7 separate regions of the Homo sapiens genome follow, and regions 1, 2, 3, 4, 5 and 7 are each linked to region 6. The links come from fine-mapping of genetic effects on gene expression. A gene starts in region 6. Each other region holds a variant in brackets. All regions are shown on one strand. Distances are between the middles of the regions. Region 1 overlaps TBCD (tubulin folding cofactor D). Region 2 overlaps TBCD (tubulin folding cofactor D). Region 3 overlaps QTGAL (queuosine-tRNA galactosyltransferase). Region 4 has its middle 12 kb from the start of METRNL. Region 5 overlaps TBCD (tubulin folding cofactor D). Region 6 holds the start of TBCD (tubulin folding cofactor D). Region 7 overlaps TBCD (tubulin folding cofactor D).

The links. PIP is the estimated chance that this variant, and not a neighbour inherited with it, causes the effect.
Region 1: its variant is the best candidate, but not a certain one, in a credible set for the expression of TBCD in monocytes (BLUEPRINT, PIP 0.75).
Region 2: its variant is the best candidate, but not a certain one, in a credible set for the expression of TBCD in tibial artery (GTEx, PIP 0.62).
Region 3: its variant is the best candidate, but not a certain one, in a credible set for the expression of TBCD in fibroblasts (GTEx, PIP 0.68).
Region 4: its variant is the best candidate, but not a certain one, in a credible set for the expression of TBCD in whole blood (TwinsUK, PIP 0.66).
Region 5: its variant is the best candidate, but not a certain one, in a credible set for the expression of TBCD in whole blood (TOPMed, PIP 0.70).
Region 7: its variant is the best candidate, but not a certain one, in a credible set for the expression of TBCD in whole blood (INTERVAL, PIP 0.58).

Annotation. Positions count from the first base shown.
Region 1 is chr17:82,893,446-82,897,802 of GRCh38, forward strand. TBCD (tubulin folding cofactor D) reads left to right here. Exons shown (of 39, transcript NM_005993.5): 17 at 102-187. Among named protein-coding and RNA genes, the nearest start is that of ZNF750, 56 kb to the left of the region's middle. RefSeq lists a silencer at 2,358-2,617. The variant T/G (reference allele first, on the strand shown) is at 1,834.
Region 2 is chr17:82,918,447-82,922,833 of GRCh38, forward strand. TBCD (tubulin folding cofactor D) reads left to right here. Exons shown (of 39, transcript NM_005993.5): 24 at 2,110-2,172; 25 at 3,055-3,131. Among named protein-coding and RNA genes, the nearest start is that of ZNF750, 81 kb to the left of the region's middle. RefSeq lists an enhancer at 1,412-2,611. The variant C/T (reference allele first, on the strand shown) is at 2,494.
Region 3 is chr17:82,955,328-82,959,714 of GRCh38, forward strand. It overlaps QTGAL (queuosine-tRNA galactosyltransferase), which reads right to left. Exons shown (of 13, transcript NM_001009905.3): 9 at 2,032-2,167; 10 at 1,854-1,922; 11 at 1,368-1,442. Among named protein-coding and RNA genes, the nearest start is that of QTGAL, 94 kb to the right of the region's middle. The variant A/C (reference allele first, on the strand shown) is at 2,513.
Region 4 is chr17:83,065,218-83,069,604 of GRCh38, forward strand. No RefSeq gene overlaps it. Among named protein-coding and RNA genes, the nearest start is that of METRNL, 12 kb to the right of the region's middle. The variant G/A (reference allele first, on the strand shown) is at 2,257.
Region 5 is chr17:82,878,850-82,883,236 of GRCh38, forward strand. The region is part of intron 14 of TBCD (tubulin folding cofactor D); the gene reads left to right. Among named protein-coding and RNA genes, the nearest start is that of ZNF750, 41 kb to the left of the region's middle. RefSeq lists an enhancer at 3,836-4,387. The variant T/G (reference allele first, on the strand shown) is at 1,553.
Region 6 is chr17:82,749,933-82,754,214 of GRCh38, forward strand. TBCD (tubulin folding cofactor D) reads left to right here and starts at 2,133. Exons shown (of 39, transcript NM_005993.5): 1 at 2,133-2,445. The coding sequence starts at 2,262. FN3K (fructosamine 3 kinase) reads left to right here. Exons shown (of 6, transcript NM_022158.4): 6 at 485-1,264. The coding sequence ends at 823. RefSeq lists silencers at 1,325-1,684, 2,375-2,694.
Region 7 is chr17:82,843,283-82,847,669 of GRCh38, forward strand. All of the region lies in intron 13 of TBCD (tubulin folding cofactor D), which reads left to right. Among named protein-coding and RNA genes, the nearest start is that of ZNF750, 5.5 kb to the left of the region's middle. RefSeq lists enhancers at 1,537-2,038, 2,039-2,538. The variant G/T (reference allele first, on the strand shown) is at 2,622.

The DNA of each region.
Region 1 (4,357 bases), 140 kb after region 6:
GTTCATGAGTGTAAATGTCTGTGGATGTGATTATTGAACTTGGTGAAATGCCTTTGTTCATTCAAATTCTTCTTTTTCCCCCATTTCCACTTTCTTATTAGGGCACTTTCCCTCATGGTATTGATATTTTGACCACAGCTGACTATTTTGCCGTCGGTAACAGATCCAACTGTTTCCTGGTTATAAGGTAAGTCTTTAATGTATATCACAAAAATAGAATACTCTAAAATCAGATTGGATGTCAGAAATCAGCTACCACCATTTTCTTTTTTCATCCTGTAATGTCCACTCAATGGAATGTAGTTTTTGTGTGAAAAATTAAAAATGGAATTGGGAACAGTGACTGAAACTTGTGTTTCATGTTGATTGGACACACCTCATGCTTTACTACGCTAGATAGGGGACATTTACTCACGTGTTAAAGAGGGGCTCAGCTTCAGGAGTGCGGCCTTGCCGTGAGTGCTGTCTCTGCTTATGATTTTTCTCCTGGTCGCCCCGTTTTACCCGTGCTGGTTCTGTGTGGGGCTTGGAGTTTGAGAGGAAGCAGCTGCAAGCACGGCCACACCTCCTCCTGATGCTTCCCTACTGGATGTCCTAAATGCTTTCCCACCGTGAAATCTTGGATTAGAAGGGACTGTTTCTTTCTGTTTCGGTAATAGGAAGTGTTTTGAAGTTGAAGTTATCTGTAGATTGTCTATGAAATGAGTAAGAGGTATTTTAGAAATCAGGTTAGAAACAAATGTTTAGCACCTCTAATTGCAGTTTACAGAATTATATCAAACTGTTTTAGTTGTGTAATTAGGTACTGGGGAGGTTACTTCAGTTATCTTAGTTGATCCATTGCAGCAGAAATGTGAAAAAGGGTGTGACTTTATTTATTTATTTTTGGAGACAGAATCTAGCTCTGTTGCCCAGGCTGGAGTGCAGTGGGGTGTGACTTTATGAAGTGATTTATTTGCCTTAAATTAGGACCAGAAGCATGCCCGATGCATTTTTAACATTAACCATTAAATACCCTAAAGATCGATTCCCCAACAGCCCTGCTGTGTAGACCGTGCAGAAAGGACGTTTCTCCGTCACCAGCCTGGGCAGAATTTTGAAAATGTAGCATTTGGCCTCTTTCCCAGGAAGGATCTTTGAACACACTTATCTGTATTTTTATACCCTTTCAGGTTTCCTCAACATTTAATGTCCTTTTTTGCCTTATCAGTTCTTTCCTATTAATACTTGGCCATATATTTTATGTGGAAAATCTACTGGCCCGATGCAGTGGCTCATGCCTGTAATCCCAGCACTCTGGGAGGCCAAGACGGGCAGATCACCTGAGGTCAGGAGTTGGAGACCAGCCTGGTGAAACCCCGTGAATACTAAAAATACAAAAATTAGCCAGGCGTGGTGGCGGGTGCCTGTAATCCCAGCTACTCAGGAGGCTGAGGCAGGAGAATCACTTGAGCCCGGGAAGCGGAGGCTGCAGTGAGCCGAGATCGTGCCACTGCACTCCAGCCTGGGTGACAGAGTGAGACTCCATCTAAAGAAAAAGACAATCTACCACCTTTTCCCGAGTTTCCTGAGTAACACACCTGACAGCTATGGGAAGCTTCAGCATATTTCCCTTGTTGCTGAGGTTTCTAAGCCAGCCTAAAACTCGCATGTAATTAGCTGTGTGCGTTTTATAAAAACATTTGCCAACCCAAGACCTGGGTCCAGGCATGTCTTCCCCCAGTGTGTTTGGCTTCCTCACGATGCCAGGCCCTGCGTGCAGACCAGATGCCACTTGTGAGGACGCACCGGCAGGCAGGCCCCTCCAATCCTGAGGGCGGCATCACGGGGACC[T/G]GCAGTCATGGCTGCACCCTAGTACCGCGGGGCCCCCCTGCACCCGAGGCAGGGTCCTGCTGTCAGCCTGGACCTTGGGGTGAGGGAGGCAGTGGTCCTGTTCAGCAGAGGGCATGGGACTGAGCACAGCCCATCAGGGAGGAGAGTTAGCAGGGCCCTGGGCCCTGGCGGGGAGCTGCTGGGGGCCTTTGAGCCATAGTGAAGAGTGTGGATTGTCCTGAGGTCATGGCACTTTGATGGTCAGGTCTTTGTTTTGAACATATCCCTGTGGCTGTATTTGGTGACTGGAAATAAGGAGAGGGCTTGAGGGCTCTTGGGAGACGGGAGAGGGCTGGGGGCCTGGAGGTGTGCCCGCTGGAGGAAGGTGGGAGTTGCCAGGGCATTACAGAGGGTCTCAGAGCTGTGTTGGCATCACTCCGCAGGTGGAGGGCACAGCTGAGGGCGACAGTGTCGTTGAGTGCGAGGAGGTTGGGGCCTCAGCTTGCACGTGCTGGCCTGCGAGGAAGCATCAGCCGTGCTGACATGGAGATGTTTCCTCTGCAAATTGGAGTTTCGGACACACAGACTGGAATTGAACTAACGGGCACCCCAGGAAGACTGTGGGGCGAGACGAGGAGGATGGGGGGACCAGCCGTCGCCCCACTCTCCTGTTCATCATCACAGCCTCGTTGGGGTGTAAACGACCCCCAGTAAGCTGGTGCATGTTCAATAGGTACATTTTTGTAAATGTTAACATCTGTAAATTCGTACCTATCACCACAATCAAGACGAGAAAAGGCCCAGGTTTCCCCTTTCCCATTCGGGGTCCCTCCCCTCCCACACCCCCTTCTTCAGGCACCCCTGGTCTGTTGCTCTCACTGCAGCTGTGTCTGCATTTCCCAAAGCTCTGTGTGAATGGGTTCAGGCAGTGGGCACTCTCCTCACTCACACTGGCTTCCTCTGCTCCATGCTTCCTGCAGACTGTCCGCCTGTGGGGACCGTCCCCCGAGCCTCCAGGGCCAGGGGTGTGGTACGTGGCGTCTGTCTCCACTCACCTGGTGAGGGGCTTCTGGGCAGTGTCTTGTCTGGGTTGTCACAGGTGCAGCTGCGGTGAACATGTGTGTACACATCTGTCTTTGGGCCTGCACTCTTGTTCTCTGGCATAGATGCCCAGAGCTGGGTGGCTGTGCTGTCAGTTTTTTTTTTTTTTTTTTTTTTTTCCTTTTGAGACAGAGCCTTGCTCTGTCACCCAGGCTGGAGTGTGGTGGCGCAATCGCGGCTCCCTGCAGCCTCGACCTCTTGAGTTCAAGCGATCCTCCCACCTCAGCCTCCCGAGTAGCTGGGACTACAGGCACACGCCACCACGCCCGGCTAATTTTTGTATTTTTCTGTGGAGATGACAAATCATGTTGCCCAGGGTGGTCTTGAACCCCTGGTCTCAAGTGATCCACCTGCCTTGGCCTCCCAAAATGCTGGCCTTGCAGGTGTGAGCCACCACACCCTGCCTGTAGCTTTTTCTGAAATGGCCACATGGCTTTCGGCGTGATGGTGCCACGCGCCCCCGGTGCTGGATGAGCTCGGGGTCCGGGATCTGGGGTCCTTGCCGGCGCTGGGGGTGTTGGTCTTTCAAGCTCGGGGTCCGGGATCTGGGGTCCGTGCTGGTGCTGGGGTGTTGGTCTTTCAAGCTTGGCCATTGTCATGGGGGTGTGGGAGCAGCTGACTAACTCGTGTTCTAGTGACTGATGATGCAGTTTCAGTCATCATCCATTTCAGGGGCGTGTTTAACACATCTTTCGCCCATTTACTTATTAGGTTAGTCGTTTTCTTCCTGTTGAGAATTTGAGAATTCTTCATGAATTCTGCATACAATTCCTTTTTCAGATGCTTCCTTGCTACATATTTCCTCCTGCTCCGTGGCTTTCCCTTTCAGTATCCTGTATATTCCTAAGTCAAAGCCTTTTTAAAAAAAAATCAGCTTTGGGCCGGGTGCGGTGGCTCACACCTGTAATGCCAGCACTTTGGGAGACCCAGGCAGGCAGATCACGAGGTCAAGAGATCGAGACCATCCTGGCCAACATGGTGAAACCCCGTCTCTACCAAAAATGCAAAAATTAGTCGGGCATGGTGGCGCACCCCTGTAATCCCAGCTACTCGGGAGGCTGAGGCAGGAGAATCACTTGATCCCGGGAGGCGGAGGTTACAGTGAGCCGAAATCGCGCCACTGCACTCCAGCCTGGGCAGCAGAATGAGACTCCGTCTCAAAAAAAAAAAAAAAAATCAGCTTTATCTTTGTACATCTACTTTATTACATATAGTTTACATATAGTAAAATTGCCAGTTTTCAATATGGGTTTAAGTGTGGCAGCGGGTTTGGCAGATGTGAGCTGTTGAATGACCACCACTGTGGTCAGTGTGGTGCACATGACCCTCCCTCCAGGAGGCGCCATCCTGACTGACCTCCTGTCGCTGGGGCTCCCCCGTTTTAGAATCCGTGCAGGTAGCTTCCTTCATCTGCTGCCTGCCTCATCAGCTGCCTGTGTTTCAG
Region 2 (4,387 bases), 170 kb after region 6:
GACCCCATCCAGCTGTCCATGTGTTCACAGTTTGTGCCTTCCTAGCCCACGGTTGGGTTTTACCAGAGTGTGTTCGACCAGCACTCAGTAGAGTACACTGGGGCTATTTCTATCTGTTGCTGTTGTGAACAAGGTTGCCAGGAATATTCCTGTGCGAGATGTGGGTACAAGCCTTTTCATGTCTACCACTGAGTCCCGTGTGCCGTTTCGTGAGAGGCTGAGGCACCGCTTCATTCCACCGCTGAGCCCCGCGTGCCGTTTCGTGAGAGGCTGAGGCACCGCTGAGCCGCGCGTGCCGTTTTTAACTTGATTATAAAATACATTTAAAGTTCACATGCAGGTGCATCTCCAAGAAAATTATTTTAAAAACTAGTTAAGACTTTCATTTCCCAGTCCTCAACACACATCAGAGCAGTACTCTGTTCAGAGCTGAAAGGATTCGCGCTGGGACAAAGGCGTGTCACTTGAGTGAGTGATGGTGTCACAGGTGCCCACGTGGAAGAAGGTAAAGTCGTATCTAAAACTAAATGTGAGAGTAACTAATAACTTACGCATAAAAACTACCATCATAAAAATCCTCGAAGAAATTTTAGGAGACGTTGTAGGACAGTGTCAGTCTCTGAAGAAAACTTCTTAGTTTAGAAATTTTCAAATCTGCGCAGAAGTAAAGAGAAGTAGTTTACGGGGGGGGCCCAGAGTCTCGCCCGGCGCTTCCTTTCTCCTCCCCTCCTCTGAGTTTAAAGAAGACCCTGAATGTCAGGTCCCAGCAGCCCCTCGCTGGGTTTTTCTAACTTGTGGTAAGAACTGGTTTTCTGGGGTTTTTTGTTTCTTTTTGTTTCCCCCCTCTTGGCATGTAATCCCCAGCTAACAGATTTTATCATAATAATTCCACAAGGTAGAAACAAAAGGAGATAATTATGTTGGGCCTTATATTGAAGAATAGACCATGTGTAGGTTGGTAGGGAAAACGGAGATTGAGAATAAACGTCTGTTCTACAGTCGAAAAGGTAAAAAGTTAATTAGTGTACAAAGACTAAATTGTAAAACTGCCTGTGACGAGGTAAAGGATCCAGTATGAAATGGGGCAGAGCAGACGTGTGGGCATTTCATGCAGAAGAGGAGCAGACTCACGTGGCCGTGGACGGTGAGGGTGCCGGCCTCACCTCGGAGGCATGGAAGTACCAGGTTACTTCACATCGAGAGGACCGTTTTCCTCTTTCCAGTCGGCTGCGGTTGGCACTGAAGAATCTTGGTGCTGACAGACACAGAGCAGGGTCTCTCGTGGAACAGGAGTTGTCTGGTCTGTTCAGTTTGATGAGTGGCAGTATCTGTGACGATGGGAAGTGTGTGTGTGGTCCCTGTCCTGTGTGCAGGGACGCCAGGTGGACCGACGGCCTCCGCATCTGTAGCACGGTCAGGCCTCCTTGTTCACGGTGACAAAAAATGGAAGGAGAGTTTAGTCCCTCAGGAGAAATAGCAAATACCATGAACAAGTGTGCAGCAGGCGTCTGCGAGTGGGTTCCGTTGTTAGGTAGAGACGGTGGGAGCTAGAGCAGTGTGTGGCCGTGGGAGCTGCTGATGCTGTCCAGTCGTCTCTGTCTCGTGCGTCCTGGCCCCCTCGTGGCTGGTCAGGGCCACGTTTCTGGTCATGGAGAGTGTGAGTGACGAGCTATGTGGGGAAGTGACAGGCATGACCTGTGGTCTGGAGCATTGCAGGTGATGGCTGTCTGTCGCTTGGGTCCTGAGTGACAGGTCTAGGAGCAGAAGCCGCTATGCTTCCCGTACAGCCTGTCACAGGGACGTCTGCAGCTCCCTGACAGGCCGGCCCGGCTTCTCTGAAGTGCACGTGGGCTCACACATGGGCCTTCTGCCACGTGGCTGGGTCTGCAGCACTTTCTTCAGGCTGCTCAGCGGAGGAGGCGTCTTGGGCTTCTCATGGTGGTTCTGAAATGGTTCTGGGATGTTTCCAGCCCTGGCAGCAGGGTAGGTTGGGCGGGTGAGGGGCAGGAGCTGGCCGCACACAACTCAGAATGTGGCAAAGGCAAGCCGCTGTGGCAGGCGCTTTTAGAAAAGTAACATTGCGTCTATCCTTTTTTTTTTTTTTTCCAGTGTGTGTTTTAATAGAAAAGTTGTCACTTTCCAAAATGCCCTTTAGAGGTGACACCGTAATTGGTAAGTGCTTTTGTTTTTAATAATAGCATTTTCTTACAGAATGACTTCAGATTAAAAGGTAAAAATGAACCTGTTAGGATGGGGGCGATAAACGATTATAGCTTAAAGGTTCAAGATATTAATCGGATACGTTGCCTTGAAGTTGTTACAAGAACCTGCTTAAATAATGGGTACCCACCGCCCTCTCCCCCCAACACAGGAGGGCCCTTCCCCGCCGTCACCTCAGTACCCCCACCTCCTCGCTTCCATGCCCAGGGCCCGGCACTCTGGGTCAGTTCTTCTCCCAGGCAGACAGTCGGGAGCTGCAGCCACCCAGGCCCT[C/T]GTGGACCAGGAGCGTGCCGGCCGCCGACACCACGGACCCTGTGGGCAGAGGCGGCTCCAGTTCCTCAGCAGCCCCCCACACTGGGCTGCCAGAGCACAGTGAAGGGAGCCCCCAGGGCTGTGGTGTCCCGGGGCTGTCTCAGCAGCCTCAGAAGTTAGGACTTTTTTTTTGTTAATTGAATAGCCTTCACATTTGTTGCTTGTGCAGGATCTAATTGAGTTAAAGATTTGGGTTTATATTGGTGGGAGCCGGGGGAGACCGTTTGAAGGAAAAGATTTAGGGGTAACAAAAGAATAAAAGTTTCCCAAAATGTGATGTATAAAAATTTACAGAATGCTGGTATTTCCCTCAATAAGAGCTTACACAATTTAACAGCCATGAGAGGAAGGGGCCTTAGACTTAACACAACGTGGAGAATGTTCACTTTGGCTTTTCCACAGATTCCTCTCAAAGGTTACCATCGACTTTAAGATTAGTATTAATAGAAGCTGTTTTTGCTGTTGTTTTTGATTTCATGGTGTTTTTGATTGCCTGGGTACGCTAACTTGATTTTTTGACAGATGGTTGGCAATGGCTGATAAATGACACTTTGAGACATCTCCATCTCATCTCAAGTCACTCCCGCCAGCAGATGAAGGTACAGTGAGCATGGGCGTTCCCGGCCGGCGCTGTGGCGGTGTTAGTGTGTTAGTCACGGATGGTGTTTGTGTTGGCGACTGTGCATCATGAGGCTGTCCCTGCAGTAGCCTGATAACTGACAAATGGGGGCATAATTCTATTTGGAATCCCGGATGGTAGCGTCTACACGGTTTATAACCAGAAAATCCAATACAGCCATTGGAATCCGAATGTTTAATTTTTTATTGCTTCTGGCTGTTTTAATTATAGTTACCTTTGAAATACTTTTTCTGCATCAATAGTAACTGTGCTCTGTTGAGTTCCGTGTCCTGTAGGATCTGAGGTTTGGAAACTCCCTTTATGATGCTCCTGTGCAGATGAGAAAACAGCACCCCAGGACCTCTGCTCGCACACATTGACCTGGTCATGTTGTGTGGGTGCCAGTGTGTGTGTGTGTCCCCGGCCACCTGCCCTCCCCTCCCGTCCTGGGGGTTACAGGTGGACTTTGGACTCACAGAGCTGTAACGCTGATCTCATTGCATAGATAAGAAACCATGGGCCCGGCGCAGTGGCGGGTGGATCACTTGAGGTCAGGAGTTCGAGGCCAGCCTGGCCAACATGGTGAAACCCCATCTCTACTAAAAATACAAAAATTAGCGGGGCGAGGTGGCGCGTGCCTGTAATCCCAGCTACTCAAGAGGCTGAGGCAGGAGAATTGCTTGAACTTGGGAGGCGAAGGTTGCAGTGAACCGAGATCACGCCATTGCACTCCAGCCTGGGTGACAAGAGCAAGACCCTGCCTCAAAAACAAAAACAAAAACAAAAACAAAAAAAACCATGGTTACCAACGTTGACTAGGTTTTGATATTGAGGATGAAGAATGGAAGTACATTTAGGTGTCTTGTAATTCTCTGACTTCCTCCATGCTTAGCATTTCTTTTTCCTTAGCATCTTCAATTTTCTTATTTTTTTTTTCTTAAGGAACTTGAACATTCTGTAGGATCCAAGTACCGTTCTACTAATTGAATTTGAATGCATCATGATCAGTGCCTCAAAATTTTATTTCAAAAGTCCATGATTAATTCACACTGGCCATGATGCTGGTGCACTTTGCCCCTGGGATTGGCACAGGTGGTGACTCGTGGAATGCAGCACCCTGTAGACGACGCACCTCCTCTGCTCATGGCCCCCACCTGCCCCGCCCCCAGTGCCTCTCCAAGGCTGCTCTGTTGGCCTCGGCTCCTGGGCTTCGGGGGAGCGGTGGAAAGAACACGT
Region 3 (4,387 bases), 210 kb after region 6:
AAGACATGTGGCCAAGAAACATGAAAAAAAGCTCATCACTGGTCATTAGAGAAATGCAAATCAAAACCACAATGAGATATCACTGGTCGTTAGAGAAATGCAAATCAAAACCATGATGAGATACCATCTCACACCAGTCAGAATGGCGATTTCTAAAAAATCAAGAAACAACAGATACTGGCAAGGCTGTGGAGAAGTAGGGATGCTTTTACACTGTTGGTGGGAATGTAAATTAGTTCAACCATTGTGGAAGACAGTGTGGTGATTCCTCAAGGATCTAGAGCCAGAAATGCCATTTGACCCAGCAATACCATTATTGGTATATACCCAAAAGGAATACAAATCATTCTATTATAAAGATACATGCACGCATATGTTTACTGCAGCACCATTCACAATAGCAAAGACATGGAATCAACCCAAATGCCCATCAATGATACACGGGATAAAGAAAACATGGCACATATAGCCCATGGAATACTACGCAGCCATGAAAAGGAATGAGTTCATGTCCTTTGCAGGGACATGGATGAAGCTGGAAACCATCATCCTCAGCAAACTAACACAGGAACAGAAAACCAAACACCGCATGTTCTCACTCATAAGTGGGAGTTGAACAGTGAGAACACATGGACACAGGGAGGGAAACATCACACACTGGGACCTGTTGGAGGGTGGGGGGCAAGGGGAGGGAGGGCATTAGGACAAACACCTAATGCATGCGGGGCTTAAAACCTACATGGCGGGTTGATAGGTGCAGCAAACCACCATGGCACATGTAAACCTATGTAACAAATCTTCATGTTCAGCACATGTATCCCAGAACTTAAAGTAAAATTAAAAAAAAAAACTACTCACCTCAGCCCCCCGCAGCCAGCCTGGACTCCCCACGCTTGGGGAAAAAGGCTGCATTTGGAGCCCGAGGCACCCATCACCTGCCCACCCCAGGCAAGGGTCGTTCACACTCAGGGGCTGAGGACATCCCCGATGCAGCCACCTCAGTCCACGGGAGCTGGAGGTCCTGGCCTTGGCCCCTCAGACATGGCACCGCAGGGCCTCGTGCTTTGCAAGTTTCTAACAAATGTTGGCTTTATGGGTATTTTAAGACAGAAGAGAGACCGGAATCCATCCCCCCCACACCCATGCAGGCCACCCTCTCCAGCTGCCTCCTGCCCCCAGGGCAGCGGCCACCACCCCACAGCCTGGTCTGTGGTGCTGTTGTGGACGGCTGTGGCACCTGTCCCCATGCCCACCATCGGCTGGGGTCTCATCCCAGGCCACACAGTCATTGCACAGCAGGGCGGGTTGTCCAGGTGGCAGAGCCCGGGATCCCCAAGCCCTTCCACGGCCAAGGGCCCCACACTCACCAGCTTCACGCAGATGACGAAGGGTGGCCGGGCGGCTCGGAAGTGCAGGATGGGGATTCGGGGCTTGGGTCTTTCCTGAGAGTGACAGTGGCCATCAGTCCTGCCCGAGCCTGGAGCTTGTCCCCGGAGAGACGCCCTCAGGGTGCACGCAGCCACCAAGTTGGCTCACACAGGAGCCAGGGCTTGGGCAGCAGATAACGTGCCAGGGTCACAGACTGCGGCAGGTGTTCAGAGCAGGAACCCGGCTCCCGCCACCCCCGCCTGACACCCGACTGCAGAACTGACCAGGGTGGGCTACCCCAAGGCCTAGACCCACGAGGGACAGCGGGGTTCTCCCCCCAAGAATGGGGGCTGGGCTCCCTGGAGGCCCCGAGGAGCCAGCACGGCCCAGGTGGACTCTGCCAAGGGGGAAGGCTCGGAGCAGCTGTCCCTCAGCCCCGGAGCAGGTGGTTGACCCCAAGGGTGACACCATGCGGCCCTGCACACCTGAGAGTCCTCGTGGCAATAGAAGCCTTTCCTGATCTTGTTCTCGTCCACGTCACAGAATGCCACCACCTGGGGACAAGCACAGAAGGGCAGCTCTGGACAGGCCGGGGCCAGGGCCTGTGCTGTGGGACAGTACGGGGGCAGGGCAGGCAGTGTTGGAGGGTGGCAGGATGCTCACCTTGCGCTGGCTGCCGGCAGTCAAGCTGCGGTACAGCCGGCGCCCCTGCTTGCCAGCGTTCCAGATGGTGAAGGCCGCCCAGCGGGGCAGGGCCTGCTCTTCCAGGAAGCGGACGCGGTGGGTCCAGATGGTCGTCCTGCGGTGGAGAAGAGGGTGATAGGCAGGCCGGAGGCCCCACAGATGCACACAGATGCTGACATACAGGGACATGATGTGTGCTCAGCTCACGTTGCCAGTGGAGTGGACACCTGGCCCAATGCCTAAGAGAGACTGGCTGTCCTACAGTCAGGCCACCTGCCCCAGCTGGACGTAGCCACATGCCTAGGTGGGGATCCACCCCTTCCATTAGACCCCAACAGGTGGGGACAGATGAGAAGCTGTCACTTAAGAATCTAGAAGGTTCTGGAAGGCAGAATTTCTGTAGGACGCAGAGGACTGGACTTGACCCAAGTCCAGTTTCCCAGAGAAACCTTTGTCCATA[A/C]GGACACATGCAACCATCCCATAAAATCCCAGCGTTCACACTTGGACACGACCTTCTGCCTCAGGGTCGCTGCCCCGAACCCTTCCACTCCCCTGGGAACCTGGTCTCTGTTCTCCCTCTGCTGTGACAAGTCGACCCCAGGCTGCTGTCCCGGGGGGAGCAGGCTCCTTCCCATGACCTGCTGCTCTGCCCAGCGCCCAGCCCCATCGCTGCCCGGGCCCTTCCCAGCCCCGCCCTCTCTCCTCCCACCGCAGCCCCTCCCCACGTGCCCCATCGCTGTCTGCCTGTGTGTGCCTCTCCCTCAACCCTGCTCCTGGAGCTGCCCGGGCTGAGCCCGTCTCAAAGCCCCAGGAGCTGGACGGGCCAGAAGCTAGAGGGGCAGGGGATGCAGAGGCCAACGGGGCCAGAACGGCGTGGGATGTGTCCCAGATGCTGTCCTCCCCAATGGCCGCGATGTAGCCACGCTGAAGCCCGGTACCCCACAGACCCTGCCCTGGCCGAGTCCTGGGATGCCCTCTGCTGTGTCAAGGGAGCTGTGTCCGTGGGAGTCTCCTCCGGGGTGGGGTCTGGGCCAGACACAACCAACACTGGCTGGTGACGGGCCTCCCCTGAGCAGGGCCCTCGTGGGTTCAGCCTCGGGATCGGGGCAGGATTTCGCTGTTCTACGATTCTGCTGCTGCCTCCGCCTCCCGGGATAAACTTGTGACTCCCCCCCAACCCTGTGGCACCCCCTGTTTGTAGCAGAACCCCCACAGGCAATGGGATGGGGGGGATGGGGGGACACGGGGTCCCCTCTGTCAGCTCAGGGAGCTGCAGGGCTTAGGCACTGTCAGGGAGGTCCTGCCTGGAGTCTACCTTTTCCTCCCCAACCCTCTGCAGCCACCTCAATAGTCCGGACCCCACCTGGGACACAGGGAGATGCTTATCCCAGTCAGTGACTTGGGGACACTGAAGCATGTGTGTGTGTGTGTATACTGTGTGGGGGTGTATGGTGTGTGTGTGTGTACACTGGGGGTGTATGGTGTGTGTGTGTGTGTACACTGGGGGTGTATGGTGTGTGTGTGTATACTGTGTGGGGGTGTATGGTGTGTGTGTGTGTATACTGTGTGGGGGTGTATGTGTGTGTGTGTACACTGTGGGGGTGTATGGTGTGTGTGTGTGTATACTGTGTGGGGGTGTATGGTGTGTGTGTATACTGTGGGGGTGTATGGTGTGTGTGTGTGTACACTGGGGGTGTATGGTGTGTATGTGTGGGGGTGTATGGTGTGTGTGTACACTGTGTGGGGGTGTATGTTGTGTGTGCACAGTGTGCATGTGTGGTGAGTGCATGTGTACATGAGCACGTGTACAGTGTGTGCAGGTGTTCGGAGTACATGCCTGTATGTACTGTGTGGATGTGTGTACACGCATGTGTACACGTGTGTGCAGTGAGGGCCTGTGCATGCAGTATGAGTACATGTATGCAGTGAGTGCACATGCCTGCATGTACCGTGCAGATGTGTGTACATGCAGTGTGTGTGCACGTGAGTGCGTGTGTGCAGTGAGCGTGTGCAGTGAGTACGTGTGTATACTTTCGTGCACGTATGTGTGTGCATGCTGTACATGTGGTCTGTGTGCACGTGCAGTGTGTGTGTGTGTGTGAGAACCTGGGTGAGGACAGCTCCTGCAGACGGCTGCGGGGACTTCCCCACCAGGTGACGCAGCCTCGCCGGGTTTTGGCATCTTGTCCTTAGCAGCCCGGGTGTGTTGGGTGTCTCGGGGCGGGGGGACGAGCCTGATCCTCCTCATCCACTGACATCAGCTTAGGGACCCCAGGGGGTTCACGTGACAGGAAAGCAGTCAGGGCTCCAGAAGAAAGCGGGGGGCCTCTGTGGC
Region 4 (4,387 bases), 320 kb after region 6:
TTTCCTGATGTTAGCAGGGAGGGTTCTGAGTCCCAAGAAGCGCTCAGTCCCCAGCATGCCCTGCGCGTCGGTCACGGAGCCCCAGGAGGAGCGTGCAGCCCGCAGCCTGGGCCTGGGCACAGCCGGCTTTATCAGCAGCTCCATCCCAGCCCCACAGACAGGGGAAGAAAAGGTTGGGGGCTGGGCAGACAAGACCATCCAGGGCCCCGGCTGGTCACCCAGGCTGAAACGGAACACATCTGTTTCTCTACACTCTAAACACTTTGCACCAAATGTGCGGGATTTTCACACCAAGCAACTTTCCAGTTCTCAGTGGACACCAACGGGGTGTCCCACGATTCAGTTCGACTCTCACACTACCTGCAGGTAGCGCAGACCCCGCAGGCTGGGGCTCCGTCCCACAAGCTGCCCCTCTGCAGGCGACCGTCCCAAGTATCGGGTGCCCAGGGTTCACACGCCTCCGTCTGACTTGGCTACAAAGTTGGGGGTTGCCACGACTCCTCCCCAGGCTTGATAATTTGCTCTAAGTCTCACAGGACTCAGGGAAAAACTCATTTACGTTCACTGATTCACTATAAAAGATGTAATAAAGGATACAGATGGACAACCAGATAACAAGGTGCACAGGGCGGGGTCCAGGAAGGACCCAAGTGCAGGAGTTTCTGTCCACCCCCCACACTCCCATGCGTTCCCCAGTCCAGAAGCTCCCGGATTCTATCTGTTAAAGGGTTTAATGGAAGCCGGCAGGCATGACCAATGGATCGTTATTCAATCTCAGCCCTTCTCCCCTCCCTGGAGGCCGGTGGGACTGAAAGTTCCAAGCTTCTAATTGATGTTTGGTCTTCCCGGTGAGCGTACCCCATCCTGAAGCTGTCTAGGGGCCCCCAAGAGTCACCTCCTTGAACAAAAAAACGCTCCTAGCACCCAGGAAATACCAAGCGATTTCGGAGCTGGTGTGGGGAACCAGGGCAGAGGCCAAATGTATATTTCTTATTCTGTTACCTGGTGCCTGGAGGCCCTGGCCACTTTCGGGTTGGCCGACCTTCGGGAAGTTTCCTGGTCCCGAACGTCTCGGGTCACTGTGGGGTAACGAGGCTCTCGGACCCTCGCCATCTGTCATCGTCATCGCCGCCGCAGGCTGGCCTTCCCTGAAGAGCTCCAGATCGCAGACACCGTGCCGTGCCCGCCACGCAGATGCAGTTTCCACTCAGCCCCACAGTGCGGGCTTCCTGGGCCCGTGTCCGGCTGGAGGAGCACCCCGGGTCCGAGCCAGCCATCCCCTCAAGAGTCCTGCGCCCTGGAGGACACCCCAAATGCCACCCCTGCTGTTACCTCCTGCAGGTTTCAGGATACTCTTACGTCGTTCTCTGTGTTCATCCGCATTTTCTGTCATGAAAGTGAATTTCTTTTGTCATAAGAAACTGTGTTTCTCAGCCTCAGGCTGCCTCACCGGGCTTCACCATGGGCGCGGCTGCCCGCCCCCTGCACACTCACTGTGCGTCCTGGAGGGACAGTGCGTGTTCTCACCCGGGGCCACGGCTTCACCCTGGGCACGGCTGCCCGCCCTCTGCACCCTCACCCTGAGTCCTGGAGGGACAGTGCGTGTTCTCACCCGGGGCCACGGCTTCACCCTGGGCACGGCTGCCCGCCCCCTGCACACTCACTGTGCGTCCTGGAGGGACAGTGCGTGTTCTCACCCGGGGCCACAGCTTCACCCTGGGCACGGCTGCCCGCCCTCTGCACCCTCACCCTGAGTCCTGGAGGGACAGTGCGTGTTCTCACCCGGGGCCACGGCTTCACCCTGGGCACGGCTGCCCGCCCTCTGCACCCTCACCCTGAGTCCTGGAGGGACGGTGCATGTTCTTACCTGGGGCCACGCAGGGCCTCTCAGGGAAGGCTGTGGCAAGACAGACACTCTTCTCAAGGCAGGTCTGGGTGCCTGGGGACTACCCCCTAGGGACCCGAGAGACCCGCTGGGTAGGATCCGGCCCCCTGTCTGCCGCGCGGCCTCCGGGAGAGAGCTGGCCTCTCCGCGTCTGTTTTCTGCCTGTGAAGGAGGCGATGGTGAAGATACCAGCTGTGGGTTTCAAGGGGAGGTGACACCTGCGCTCTGGTGGCCATGGTGTGGACACGGACCCATTGTCTGTTTCCTTTGCGGGATTCCACGCTGGGCTCCTGTTGGCAAGAGGAAGGTCCTGAGGAACTGCGGGGGGAGGCTCGGCCTCGCCTGCCCAGGTGGTGTGGGTGCCTGCGCCT[G/A]GGGGAGAGCCTGGGGTTCTCTCGGGACCCGCCTCTCCTCCCAAGGCCATTTCCATGCACTGGACACTGCAGGCCCTGAGGCATCAGGTCTCGCTGGCTTTGCTGGCCGTCCGGAGCTCTGGCCTAGGTGCGGAGTCCTGGGGGTCCTGGGGAACCCACCTGAAGCCCCCCCTCGTGGCCCCTGTGGCAACACTGACCGGGCCTGACCTGTCCCCTCGTGTCACACTGACCGGGCCTGACCTGTCCCCTTGTGTCACACTCATCTTACACTGTGCTTTATCTTGTTACCCTGCAGGCATTCACCTCAACCCCTCCCGTCCCCTCTGGGATGAGCCGGGCCACAGATAAAGGCCTCTTAGCGGAGCTACGAAAAGGATCACTTTAGCCCTTCTGGGAAGGAGGGATTTAGGTTAAGTCAGCTCAGCTTAGATTCCAAAAGACTAGGACGGTCAGCCCAGGACCCAGGCATTTGGGTGACACAAGTGCTTTCCGGCCGGGAGAGCCACAGGCTGTGCAGGGAAAACTCAGTTGCTTTTGCTTTCTGAAGTTCAGGGCTTCCAGCTGGACGTTTTTGGAAGTGCGGGAAACACATGAGGTTTCGCTAAAGGAATGAAGCCTGAGCCTCCACGGGGATGAGAATGACCCAAGAACCTCCCGAAATCCCACCTGCAGGAGGCGACAGCGGGGGCGACAGCGGGGGTCCCGGGAGGCGACAGCGGGGGGCGGCAGCGGGGGTCCCGGGAGGCGACAGCGGGGGCGGCAGCGGGGGTCCCGGGAGGCGACAGCGGGGGTGACAACGGGGGTCCCGGGAGGCGACAGCGGCGGTGACAACGGGGGTCCCGGGAGGCGACAGCGGGGGCGGCAACGGGGGTCCCGGGAGGCGACAGCGGCGGTGACAACGGGGGTCCCGGGAGGCGACAGCGGCGGTGACAACGGGGGTCCCGGGAGGCGACAGCGGGGGCGGCAACGGGGGTCCCGGGAGGCGACAGCGGGGGTGACAACGGGGGTCCCGGGAGGCGACAGCGGCGGTGACAACGGGGGTCCCGGGAGGCGACAGCGGGGGCGGCAACGGGGGTCCCGGGAGGCGACAGCGGGGGTGACAACGGGGGTCCCGGGAGGCGACAGCGGCGGTGACAACGGGGGTCCCGGGAGGCGACAGCGGGGGCGACAGCGGGGGTCCCGGGAGGCGACAGCGGGGGCGGCAGCGGGGGTCCCGGGAGGCGACAGCGGGGGGCGACAATGGGGGTCCCGGGAGGCGACAGCGGGGGGCGACAATGGGGGTCCCGGGAGGCGACAGCGGGGGGCGACAACGGGGGTCCCGGGAGGCGACAGCGGGGGCGACAATGGGGGTCCCGGGAGGCGACAGCGGGGGGCGGCAGCGGGGGTCCCGGGAGGCGACAGCGGGGGCGACAATGGGGGTGTCCTCCCAGGGTGGGATCCGTGGGGGTTGCAGGTTGGAACTCGGGTGCTCCCCCCATGGCACGCGGGCCCAGTAAGCCCAGCCGTGGGGGCTGCCGTGGTGGAAATCGCATCTGCATGTGAGGACAGCAGGACCCAGCACCTTCCCGCGGTGACCCCAAGAGGCAGGGCTGGCGGCCGCCCTGCCAGAGTCCCCCTCCGGACCTAGAGGAGGCATCTCCCTAATTTCACCTTTTTCAGTAGAAAAACATCCCCGAGGTTCACCTAAAACCCCAATTTTTCAGGAAATGGTTGAGGCTGCTTATCATTTGTGGAAATCACGTGTGCACAAGTAGAGAGAATGCAGCGGGGTGGGGACAAAATGAAACCCAGAGAACTTGGCAGGTCCGCACACAGGCCTGACCCCTGTGCTCCTAGGGGTGCCCGGGATGGGTGCCGTCGTCAGCCCCATGACGAGGGTGACTGGGTCAGGTGTCAACCCCCACGGGCAGGGCTCTGTGCCCACCACCCCATGCTGTCGGAGCAGCCCGAAGGTGGCCAGCGCTGAACATGGGGTCCCACCCCATCCTCTCTGAGAGCCGGGCTGGGCCGGGTGGGGGCTGGCAGGGTCTGGCTGTTCTCAAACAGGTCCTTTCTCAGAAGGTGCTAGAAACTGTGTCCCTCACCAAAAGCTAACATGGGTGCCAGAGCTGGGACAAGGGCCAGTCCTTCC
Region 5 (4,387 bases), 130 kb after region 6:
GTTCCTCTCCCAGCTTTATTTCATCATTCGCTCCTGCCAGTGTGGACTCATGGGTGCTCATCCTGTTTGGGGGTTATCATCTAACACTATTGTTACTAGTTTTGTTTGAGTTATAATCTAACACTAACTATTGTTATTAATGTTGCTCAAATTGCTCCAGCTTTGGCCACTTCAGGTTGGCTTCTGTGTCCTTTCAGCAAGATCCTGTTCTTTTTTTTTTTTTTTTTTTTCTTTTTTCCTGAGCCTTTTTTCTTTCCTTCTGGCACCACAAGATGCACCTGGCTTATCTTTTTGCCCCTGCCCCAGCCCTAGCATCCACCACTTCCCAGGAGTCTCACATCCTCTCGGTGGAGAACAGTATTTGGAATCCAGGACGCCGGGCTTGGCCTCAGCTGCCTCTAGGTCCCCTCCCTCTGTAGCTGAGTGTGTGCCCCTCTTCACAGTCCATGTTTGCACAGACACCAGCTCTAGCCCAGCTTCCTCCTGGCCTCCCTTCGTGTGCCGCTTCTGGGCCTACTGTGTAGCACGCTCTGCTGCCGTGCGTCTGCCGTCATGCATCTGACGTGATTTTGGAGCTGCCAGCCCACACCTGTGTGAGCAACAGACTCACCACTCAGGGTGGGACGCTCTGTGCATCCTCCTCACCCTGGGCATAGCGTTGCCAGGCCATCGCTCGGGTGAGCCCTTCTGGTGCTGCTGGTCTGGGATGCAGACAAGTCTGCCGGTTCCCTCTGTGCTGGTCCGGGATGCAGACACGTCTGCCGCTTCCCTCTGTGCTGGGCTCCCCAGGTCTGTGATTGTTGCTTCTTCAATCTGCATGTGGTTGTGTTCTACAACTCAAGCACCAAACAGGACAGTCCGTCTCCCCCAAAAACTCCCCAGTCTGCTCCCCAACCCTGGGCCAACATTGGTCTGATTTTGGTCCTGATAGTTTACCATTTCTGGAGTGTCTTATAAACGGAAATAATCAGTAGGCTTTTCATTCTGGCTTCGTTGACTTGGCACAGTGCCCTTAAGACTCATCCCAGTGATCTTTCCTTTTTTTTTTTGGAGTGGTGTATTGTTGGACGGACCTGGCGGTCACAGGCCTACCTGTCTCCTTGGGTGTCTCCAGTCCTTTCTGGAGGCTCAGGGGGGCTCAAGGGAAGACTCTGCTTCCCTGCTTGAGTTGCCCGCATTCCTTTGCTCATGGGCTCTTCATCTACCTTCACAGCCAGCCACGTCCACGTCTCGCTTCATCCTTCACGTACCCTATGCCTGTGGTCCTTTCTTCTGCCTCCTGTGTCTGTCCTTCCTTCTTCCTTCCTGTATGTATTTATCTCCTTACCTGTCTACTTATCAGTCTGTCTAGATGGGGTCTCGCTGTGTTGCCCAGACTGTACTCAAATTCCTGGGCTCAAGGGATCCTCCTGCCTCTGCCTCCCACAGACAGATGGAGCACAGGTGTAGCCAGGGCCGCTGGTGTGTACCACTGTGTTCGGCACCCGCTGGGCTGCAGGAGTAATCCAGGGCCCTCTCCCCATCTTAGGGTCAACTGATTGCCAACCTTAAT[T/G]CCCCTTTGTCAGGTAAAGGAACATGTTTGAAGTGGGACACCCTTATCTTTGGGAGTGGGTATTATTCTGCTGAAGACAAGGGTGGGGACAGATATGCTGTGACCAGGGTAGTTGGGCTTATGACTTTGTTGTTGTTTACGTGGAGGAACTGAAAGACCTGGGTGTGCTGCTGGATGCCCCAAGGATCTGGCAGGAGGAGGCATCCAGGCCCTCAGGGCAGGTAGCGGGTGGGCCTCCGTGGTGTTGGGAGGTGCTGGGCCCGGAGGTATCAGCAGGAACTGCAGGGTCCCTACCGCAGGCTCCCCACACAGTGACACCTGTCTGTCCGTCCGTCTGTCCACAGGAGCAGGAGGGGCTGGGCGGGGAGGACGCAGGGTCTGTCGGAGCATAGCAGTGGCCCGTACGTGAGGGACTTTGTTGTTGCCGTCTCCCCAGGGTGCAGAGCGTGGTGGTTTGTGGCCATCCTTGCAGTGTGAGTGAGCAAGTGGCCGAGGGGTAGACTTTGGATGGCTCCAGGCGGAACTCGGGGAAGGAGGCCGTGTACTCCCATAGCTCTGGGCTCTGTTTGTGGCTGTGGCCACACAGGGCAGGGCCTCAGGGCAGGGAGGCCAGTGCTTTTGGGAAGGGCCTCCCCCAGCCCTCAGAAGCCTCCCACCCTATTCCCCTTGGGCTCCATCCTTCTGTTTTTTTTCTGGCTCTGGTTCCTGGCGTCTGTTTGCAAGGCTGGCTGGACACTGCAACCACCTGGGCTTGCTGCTGTGGCCTGGACGCTGGGGTCTCTCTCGGCCCGGTGGTGAGCTGAGAAGCGGCCCTGTGGTAGAAGAGGGCCTTTCCACGCTGAGACCACAGATTGTCCCTGCAATAAGCAAACATTTCTCTAAAATGTGAGATAAACGCTTTATCCACTGGTGATCCGTGGTTGTTAGTAATTAAACCAAGTAAACGGTAGCTCATTCGGTCAGGCCGCTTGCCGCCGATGAGGGGTGCAGAGCTTCTGCAGCATCCTGGGGAGGTCCCGGAACGTGGGTCTGGGCTGTGCTGATGCTGGAGCAGCCAGCGGGGAGAGCTGCCAGGCCACTCCTGACAGCCCCGCACCCGCTCTGGATGGAAGCTTCTCGCTCCCAGCCGATACGGGCCTGCTGCCTGCTGCTGGGGCTGGAGGGGCCCCTCTGCTTGAGCCTTGGGGTACCCCGTGCCTACGTGCCCTCCTGGCTTTGCCCATGGTTGGTGGCCGTGTTTTGGGCTGCGTTGATGTCGTTGTGGAGCCCGCTCTGGGCCTCGGCACGTCTGAGCTTGATTGGGGTGGAAAATGCACCTGGTGGTTTGTATTATGTTGTTTCTGTTTTATTTAATTTCATTTGCCATTCTTATTTCAAAAGATGCTTCCTATGTTTATGCTATATTGTTAGTTTAACTTCCTACCCTTTCCATCTATGAATTTCTGTTTTTATTGTGGTTCTCAGTGACCACACTCTAGGGGTCCTTTCTCTCTCTCTCTGTCTCTCCCCCCTCTCCCCTCCTCCCTTCCTCCCTCCCTCCCTCCTAGGCAGAGCCTGTGAGACTTGCAGGCATTTCCCCAGAACCCAGGCCCTCTTGGCCATCTGGCTGCTGCCCCACCCAACCTTTGGCCTCTCCTGGGGCTCCTGGATGGTTGGGCGTCCCAAATCCCCATCAGCAGAGCACTTGGTCACAAGGCCCGAGTCACATGCCCCAGCTTCTCCGAGGAAGTGCAGAGTCCAGCCGCAGGGAGGACTTTCTCAACCGGCCCTGGGGCCAGCTGTCCTGCTCCTCCTTGTTTGCTGTGGGCTCACCTCTGTGGGCTGCTCACTCAGACCCACTCGCACCCATGGGACCTTCCCACCTGTTTCTCCTGCCTCCTTCAGTCTGTGCCCAGCACCCCGCTGTCAAGCCCATTCCCCCCCAGCCCCTGACGTTGGACATGCTGGAGGAGACTGTGGCCCTGTGGCGTGTTCTGGGCCATCTCCAGGGCCTGGAGCGGGCACCTGTGCCCAGCACTGGAGGCTGGGGGACAAGTGCTCTCTCTGATAAATGCCCCCGAGTTTCAGTTCTGTGGCTGTAGTTTGTAGGTCTCCTAGCTCAGCATCCCCGAGCCCATGCCCTGGGGACTCATGGGGCCGAGGAGAGAGGAGCGCAGAGAACATGAGGATACGTGAGCCCCTTGCCTGAGAGGTGTGCTGTGAACCTGGAGAGCAAGGCCAGTGGGTCTGGGGTGACAGACAGTGCGAGATGCAGGAAAACAGGCTCGAGATGCTGTGAATCTGGAGAACAAGTGGGCCTGGGTCTGGGGCAACAGACAGCGTGAGACACAGGAGAACAGGCGGGATGCTGTGAAACCGGAGAGCAAGGCCAGTGGGTCTGGGTCTGGGTCTGGGGCGACAGACAGTGCGAGACACAGGAGAACAGACGGGATGTCATGTGCATTGTGGCTGGCAGGGCCGGCGCCTCACACACACGCCCCGGAAGTCAGGATGTGGTGCTGACGGTGTCCGCGCTGCCAGGCTGGAGCGGGTGACGGTGCCTGCGCTGCCAGGCTGGAGCGGGTGACGGTGCCCGCCCTACCGGGCTGGAGCGGAGCTTGCTCTCTCTGCAGTGGGACCTGCTCACTTTTCCTTAGCTGGATGTATCTTTCACATTTAGCTTAACAGCAGAGCTGGTGAGAGGACGCACACCTGGCGTCACCATTGTCCCCCGTGCATGTCCCCGGCGTCCTTCATGTTGACGCGGGCCCCGCCCCACGGCTCAGGTCTGTCAACTTCCCTGGAACAAGGCAGAGCACTTGGCCCCTGGAAGACCTGGAAACCAGGAACCTCGGA
Region 6 (4,282 bases):
CTGTAATCCCAGCTACTCAGTAGGCTGAGGCAGGAGAATCACTTGAATCCGGGAGGCGGAGGTTGCAGTGAGCCGAGATGGCGCCACTGCACTCCAGCCTGGGTGACAGAGCAAGATTCCCTCTCAAAGAAAAAAACAACAAAACCAAACAAAACCTGCAGACATATATGTGTAGCGAAATAAAAGTGGCCAGAGTTTGCTAAGGTAGCGCAACACTGGTTCCTATTCTGTGGGTCGATTAAAACTATAACCTCAGAGGTTCTCCACTGTGTGGGGATTCTAGACCTAAATTAGGAGGAAATCCTAAGTTAGACAAAGCTAGACTCCCCTGAAGTCAGGTGGCCCCTATTTCTGGGCTTGGCAGGCAGTGCTGGGGCTGGACACCGAAGCAGATCGCGAGTGGGCTTTGCCTTATTTCCAAGAACGAGGTGATGAGACCGGGGCTCCCAGAGGCCAGCGATAACTGCAGCCGTTGCTCTCGTAGGTGAAGATCCCGGATCTGTTTTGTGGCCTAGAGATTGTCCCCGCGTTGCTCCACGGGGATCTCTGGTCGGGAAACGTGGCTGAGGACGACGTGGGGCCCATTATTTACGACCCGGCTTCCTTCTATGGCCATTCCGAGTTTGAACTGGCAATCGCCTTGATGTTTGGGGGGTTCCCCAGATCCTTCTTCACCGCCTACCACCGGAAGATCCCCAAGGCTCCGGGCTTCGACCAGCGGCTGCTGCTCTACCAGCTGTTTAACTACCTGAACCACTGGAACCACTTCGGGCGGGAGTACAGGAGCCCTTCCTTGGGCACCATGCGAAGGCTGCTCAAGTAGCGGCCCCTGCCCTCCCTTCCCCTGTCCCCGTCCCCGTCTCCGTCTCCCCGTCCCTGTCCCCCCGTCCCCCGTCCCTGTGCCCCCGTCCCTGTCCCCCTGTTCCCGTCTCCCCGTCCCTCCGTCTCCATCCCCCCGTCCCCCCATCCTCCTGTCCCCGTCCCCCCGTCCCCGTCCCTCCATCCCTGTCCCCCGTCCCCCTGTCCCCCTGTCCACATACCAATCCCCCTGTCCCCGACCCCCCATCCCCGTCCCCCATCTCCGTCCCCGTCCCCCCTGCCCCGTCCCCGTCTCCGTTCCCCCGTCCCCATCCTCCATCCCCGTCTCCCATCGCCGTCCCCCCGTCCCCGTCCCCCGTCCCCGTCCCCCCTGTCCCTGTCCCCCTTCCCCCGACCCCTCCCAGATCCTGGGGACCAATAAAGCCCGCAGCGGGTCTCGGCTGGCGTCCTGCGCCTCGTTCCTCCGCTCGTGGGGCTGCTTTCAGGGCCAGACGCACGGCGAGCTGTGCACGGACGTTTTTGCGGCGATTCAGGGGAAACGCACGCGGACCCGGTAGCCAAGGCCAAAGTCGGCGCAGCGCCCACCGCGGCCTCCGGGCCCCGCTCCCGCTCCCGCTCTGGGGCGCGCCACCACTCGGCGCGGGGCCCGTGTGATCCGCGCGGGTCCCAGCGTGGCGCGAATAAGTGTCAGGGCGGTTGGCTCTGAGGGGTGGGTCCCGGGGCTCGCCTCGCGCCCCCGACTGCGTGCTCAGGCCCCGCCCCTCCCCGTCCACGCATGCTGAGGCTCCGCCCCGCTCCGCGGTCCCCCGGTCCCACCCGCCCCCGCCCCGCCCCCGCCCCGCCCCCCGGCGTGTTGTGGCTCCGCCCCGCTGTCTCCGGCCCCACCGCAAGCCCTGCCCCTCCCACCCACGCGTGCCCGGGCCCCGCCCCCGTTGCGCGCAGCCCCGCCCCCTATCGCGTGCTCAAGCCCCGCCCTGGCGGCCCCCGGCCCCATCCCGAAGCCCCGCCCCCCCGCACACCGCCTGCTCAGGCTCCGCCCCGCTGTCCTCCGGCGGCGGCCTCACCCCGCAGCCCGGCCCACCGCGTCTCAGGCCCCACCTCCTGTCCTGCCCCGCCCACCGCGTGCTCAGGCCCCGCTGAGCGGTCCCGGCTCCGCTCGCGCCCTGTGGGGTCCACGGCGCGCTCTTCCAGAGCCTTTGGGACCCGTGCCCGCTCGCGTCCTCAAGTGCACGCGCCGTCCCGCGCGCGGTATTTTGGCGGCCGACGCGTTCCGTAGCGAGGCCGGCGAGTGGGGTCGGAGGTCGCGGGGCGGGGCCAGCGTCGGTTGCCGCCTTAGCGGGCGCCTCCTTTTCATCCCTCATCCTTCATCCCTGGCTTTCGCGCTCTAGCGGAGTGGGATCTGCGAACACGTGAGGCGGGGGCGCGGTCCCCAGGCTGCCGAGATGGCCCTGAGCGACGAACCGGCCGCGGGCGGCCCCGAGGAGGAGGCGGAGGACGAGACACTGGCCTTTGGCGCGGCGCTGGAAGCGTTCGGCGAGAGCGCGGAGACCCGGGCGCTGCTGGGCCGCCTGCGGGAGGTGCACGGCGGCGGCGCGGAGCGCGAGGTGGCCCTGGAGCGGTTCCGCGGTGCGTGGGCGGCGCCGCGTGCCCGCTTCCTCCCCCGGCCCGGGTTCGGCGCGCTGAGTGCACTTTACCGGGCGGGGACCGCAGCCCGGCGGCGCCGGCCGCTCTGCGAGGGCTGCCGGTGCGCGGTCCCGCGGGCCGTGGTGGGGCGCGGCCTTCCTAGGCGGGAGAGGGCCACCCCGGCGCGGCGTTAGGTGCACGGGGCAGACGCGCGCCTCCCTTGGGGGGACCGTGGCCCGCGGAGCGCCTGCTCTCGCACGGGGTGAAGCCTCTGCGGCCTCCCCGGGAGGCGGGGTGCAGAAGCCCTCCGTCCCCCGTCTCCGTCACTGGAGGAGGTCCCTGGGCTGGGGAGACTCGGGCCAGACCCCTCCGGACAGCTGGTCAGCCCTGCAGTGTGGACTCCCAGGCTTGCCTCCACCGAGCGCGGTTTCTGTGAATGTTGTGTGGACAGGGAGATAGGGAATGAGAGAGGGGGACGCAGGGAACAAACCTGCTGCAAACAAAGCGCGCCTCGGGTGGGGAGGGCAGCAGCCTGTCCGTTCCGTGGACGCCGTGGACAGAGCGGGCTGGCCGGGTCCGTGCCTCTGCAGGCGGGGTGGGGTGTAGGTACCCCTGTGGAGGCCATTCGATGAGTCTAAATTCTCCGAGTTCAGACCCACCTTTACCGCTGTCTATAATGGGTTATTTCCAAACAAGTCCTTAGGAGCTCATAGCTAAGTAGTTACATGGGGTTTTGTAATTCAGTAAAATCATCTTTGTAGACCCTTTGAGTAAGAAGAACTTTTGCATTATTTGGCCTTCCTCATTTTAGAATGACAGCGCTTTGATTTTAGGAGTCAGGCAGGGTGGGGGGCCTTGTGGGAGGAGTGCGGGTTCGGCGTCAGATCCTCCTGCCTGTGAATTCTGGCCCTGTCGCTTGGACCTGATACTTGATTGCCTGTTTCTTCGGGTGTAAGCTGGGGCGGATAACGATGCCTCTCGTGCAGAACTGTTCTGAGGGTGAGGGACCCTCATCCAGGGACCAGTGAAGCCAGATTTTTTGTTCCTGGTGTAACAGCCCAATGGCTTCTTCCTTTTTTTTTTTTTTTTTTTTTTGATACGAAGTCTTGCTCTGTTGCCCAGGCTGGAGTGCAGTGCAGTGGTGCGATCTTGGCTCACTGCAACCTCAACCTCTCAGGTTCAAGCTATTCTCCTGTCTTAGCCTCCCGAGTAGCTGGGGCTACAGGCGCGCGCCACCACGCCCGGCTAATTTTGTATTTTTAGTAGAGGGGGTTTCACCATGTTGGTCAGGCTGGTCTCAAACTCCTGACCTCAAGTGGTCGCCCGACTCAGCCTCCCAAAGTGTTGAGATTACAGGTGTGAGCCACTGCGCTCGGCCCCAGTGGGTTCTTTCTGCGGGCTGCCCAGATAGAGTTGATTTGTCAGGGCAGGGGAGTTGCCATGGAGAAGATTTAGTTCACGCAGAGCCGGTTGAAAGGGAGACTAGACTAGAGGTTTTTTTTTTTTTTTTTGAGGCGGAGTCTCACTTTGTCCCCCAGGGTGGAGTGCAGTGATGAGATCTCAGCTCACTGCAACCTCCACAACCTCCACCTCCCAGGTTCAAGTGATTCTCCTGCCTCAGCCTCCCGAGTAGCTGGGACTACAGGTGCGCGCCACCACGCCCACCTAATTTTTCGTATTATTAGTAGTGACGGGTTTCATCGTGTTAGCCAGGATGGTCTCGATCTCCTGACCTCGTGATCCACCCGCCTCAGCCTCCCAAAGTGAGCCACCACGCCCGGCTGGAGTTTTATTATTACTCAGATCAGTCTCCCTGAGAATTTGAGGGCCAGGGTTTTTT
Region 7 (4,387 bases), 93 kb after region 6:
CCCTCCCTGTCCAGCTTACTTACCCTTCCCTTCCCCTCCCCTCCCCTCCCCGTCCAGCTTACATACCCTTCCCTTCCCCTCGCCGTCCAGCTTACTTATCATTCCCTTCCCCTCCCCGTCCAGCTTATATACCCTTCCTTTCCCCTCCCCATCCAGCTTACATACCCTTCCCTTCCCCTCCCCGTCCAGCTTACTTACCCTTCCCTTCCCCTCACCATCCAGCTTACTTACCCTTCCCTTCCCCTCACCATCCAGCTTACTTACCCTTCCCTTCCCCTCCCCGTCCAGCTTACTTACCCTTCCCTTCCCCTCCCCGTCCAGCTTACTTACCCTTCCCTTCCCCTCCCCATCCAGCTTAATCGTCTTGCTGCATTTCAGGTCAGTTGCAGACATCAGTATGCTTTGCCCCAAACACTTTTCAGGCATATTCTTATTAGTTTATGATTCTTCTTTCAAAGGTAAGGTTTACATTCAGTGAAGGGCACAGGTCTTAAGAGGATCATTTAACGAGTTTTGACAAATGTGTTCTCCCATTATGGCCCCAGAGAGTTCCGTCACAGCAGTGCCACCCTTCCCCACCCAGACCGTGGCAACTGCAGGCTGATACTTTTCCACCATGGATTAGTTTTATGTGTTGTAGAATTTTATGTCAGTAGTGATTCCTGATTTTTATGGACAGCTGTTTCTCACCTGCAGGTTCTTTCCTTTATCCTCAGTAGTCTTAGTTTTCTTAACTTTATATTTCAACACTTCTGTTAAGTACTTGGTTTCTGATTTTGGTTTCCATGAGCTCTGTTTTGTTCTGAGTGTTCCTTTTGTAGCATCTCATTCTCATGCAGTACTTTCAGTAGCTTTTCTTATCTAAGGATTTTAGTGATAGCTTTCTTTTAGTGGGGAGTGGAGGAGTGGGGGTGGATGTTCTCCGTGTGTGTGTGTGTGTGTGTGTGTGTGTGTTTAAAGACCTGGGGTCTTGCTGTGTTACCCAGGCTGGACTTGAACTCCGGGTCTCAAGTGCTTCTCCTGCCTCAGCCTCCCGGGTAGCTGGGACTGCAGGAGCGCCATGCCATGCCTGGTGCCCTCCCTGCATCGTCAGTGTGGCTGCCTGCCTTCCAGGGCCTCTGCTGAGCACCTCGGAGAGTCAGCCCTGTCTCCTGCCCCAGTGCTCCTTGGGTTAGGCCTACCCTGCCCCTCCCCACAGAGTTCTCTGGTGCCACAGATCTGGAGCTTTTTAGGGACCTGTCCTGTGGATCAGGGGGAGTCTGAGTTGCCTCCCTCCAGGGGAGGGCTGGGCTTCTTGGTCTGAGGCATTTCCTGCTGTCCCTGCACTTCCAGGCTCCTCCGTGGTCCTGGTGCTGCCTTCCCTGCCCTTCCTCTTCTACCCTGTAGCTTATTTCTTGAAAAAAGAAAATGGTCCGTTTCTGCTGTTTTTAGTGGGATTTTACCCGCTATTTTTTACATGTTCAACCCCCTGTGTTACTCAGAATTCTTGCGATTAGGTTTTTGACCAAATCTTAGGAACCGTCATGGGGGTGGCAGCTGATGTTTCTTGCGTGTTGATGGTGTGGGGCACCGTGCCAGGTGCATCACCTGCACTGGTCCATTTACTCAGAAGCACCACGCACCTGGCCTGTGGAGTCCCCCCACCCACAGGTCGGGAACATGGCCGAGGTACCCAGCCCAGAGGGCGATGAGCAGAGTTACACCAGAGGTGGGGGGTGCTTCCCTGGGTGGGGAAGGAGGGGTACCTGGGGTGGTGGCTGCTCTTGGGGGTAAGCACCGGTGCCAGTGTGTGTTGGGGGGTGCCAGGGACCCAGGCAGGTGCTGGCGCCGCGGCCTCTGTGTCAGGGCCTCTTTCCCTAGGGGCACACAGGCTGGAAGTGCAGTCCTGGTTGAGCTTTCCTAGTTTCCAGGTCGGGGGTGAGGCACAGGACATGGCCGGCTCGGCCCCTTCCTCTCCATCCTGTCCAGCTCAGCCCCTTCCTGTCCATCTTGTGCGGCCCAGCCCCTTCCTCTCCGTCCATCCTGTCCGGCCTGGCCCCTTCCTCTCTGTCCTGTCTGGCCTGGCCCCTTCCTCTCTGTCCATCCTGTCTGGCTCGGCCCCTTCCTCTCCGTCCTGTCCAGCTTGGCCCCTTCCTCTCCATCTTGTCCGGCCCGGCCCCTTCCTCTCCATCTCGTCTGGCCCGGCCCCTTCCTCTCCGTCTGTCCTGTCCGGCCCGGCCCCTTCCTCTCCGTCCTGTCCAGCTCAGCCCCTTCCTGTCCATCTTGTGTGGCCCAGCCCCTTCCTCTCCGTCTGTCCTGTCTGGCCTGGCCCCTTGCTCTCCCTCCGTCCTGTCCGGCTCAGCCCTTTCCTCTCCGTCCTGCCCAGCCCACCCCGGTCCCTTCCGCAGCAGCATCCTCTCCAGTGCACTGTGTGCTGGGACTCAAGTCTTGGCTCTTCCATCTTCACCCTTTGTGACTTGGGGCAGCAATTGCTGACCTCCCTGGGCCTCGGTCTTCCTGTCCGTGAAAGGGACTTGTGAGCATCTCTCACAGAACACCTGTGATGAAGGAAGGGCGTCACATCTTGGATCTTCTTAAAATACAAGATTGTTTCTGTTTTAATCCTTTGTGTTCCTTGTGAG[G/T]TGCTGCATCCAGAGGAAAGGAGAAAGGAAATGAAAACTCTGCGGAAAATCCACAGGCCTGGCATCAGCCTCCCAGTCTGATTTTGACGCGGCTGTAGGGGAGACACAGCAACATTCTATCCCCCGAGGGCACAGCTTCAGGAACGGCTCCGGGCCGGAGGGCACCTCTCGCCTGGCTGTGTTGTGTCTCAGGGCTCTGCGCTTCTAAAGGGACTCAGGCCAGTGGGCAGAACTGTGGGATGGGACTGGGAGGCTTAGGGGGTGAGGGTGTAAGCCCTGTGCCTCCCTCCACGTGCTGCGTCCGGCATGCCACGTCCCCTCGTCCAGCCCTCTGCTGCCCCCTCCACGCGCTGCGTCCTCTGTGCTGTGTCCTCTTGTCCAGCCCTCTGCTGCCCCCTCCACGTGCTGCGTCCAGCGTGCCGTGTCCTCTCGTCCAGCCCTCTGCTGCCCCCTCCATGCGCTGTGTCCCATGTGCCGTGTCCTCTCGTCCAGCCCTCTGCTGCCCGCTGCTCTCTTTGGGACTTCCATTGTTTCCCCTTCCCCTTCCTTTCCTGGTTTTCTTCCCTAGTGAGGTGCCCTTCCTGCTGCTGCAGGGCCCTGCTGTGGCCTCTGCCTTCCGTCCCTGGCGGTAGTGAGACTGGCTGAGACCCAGGGGAAGCTTGGAGACTGTCCTAGATTTCGGAGATGGTGGTACACAGGCTTGCTGGCTTGGGTTAGGGCTCTAGGCCCTGCCTTCGGGTTGTCTGGAAGCCGCCAGCCAGGCCTGGACACCTCTCTGCCCCCGTCACCTCGGAGCAGCAGCCCAGGAGCGGGTCACAGCCCTTCCCCTGTGTTACATGGTCACCTGCCTGAGAACCCCTGCAGGCCCCTGTGTTTTGGGAAGTTGATTTAACTGAACAGAGCGCAGCTGAGAAGGGGCGCCTCCCTCCCCACCCACCCTCATTGCCTGGGACCGCGTGTCCAGGAGCCGGGCCTCGGGTGTCTGGTCTCTGGGCCACACAGGCTAACATGGCCAAGCCCAGCTGCACCCCCGGGGTCCTCACCCGCCATGTGCCTGTGGTCGTGGCCAAGGTCTGGGCCCAACCTGCTCTGGGCGCTGTGGGCACCGCTCAGCCATTTTCTACAGGTGGCCGAGGAGACATTTGGTTTCTCATTAAAAAGAAACAGGCCGGGCGTGGTGGCTCACGCCTGTAATCCCAGCACTTTGGGAGGCCAAGGTGGGCGGATCATGAGGTCAGGAGATCGAGACCATCTTGTCTAACACAGTGAAACCCCGTCTCTACTAAAAATACACAAAAAATTAGCTGGGCGTGGTGGTGGGTGCCTGTAATCCCAACTACTCGGGAGGCTGAGGCAGGAGAATGGTGTGAACCTGGGAGGCGGAGCTTGCAGTGAGCCGAGATCATGCCACTGTATTCCAGCCTGGGCAACAGAGCGAGACTCCATGTCAAAGAAAAAAAAAAAAAAAAAAAAAAAGAAACAACCCTGAGAACATCAGTGGGGTTTTACTGACTGTGTCAGACAACTCAGCGATGCAGAGAAATGAAAGTGGAGTTGATTTGGCTCTTGTGGTGAGATACAGCCAAGGTGTATGAGAGAATTTGGGGAAAGCTTTCTTTCTGGACATTTGTTGACGTTGATGAGTAGTGGAGGGCTTTATTTGTAAGTTGAAGTCTGAGATTTGTCATGCCAATACCTAAATTTTAATTTGTTTGTACAAATAACGCCACAATTTAATTCTTTTTTCTTTTTGAGACAGAGTCTTG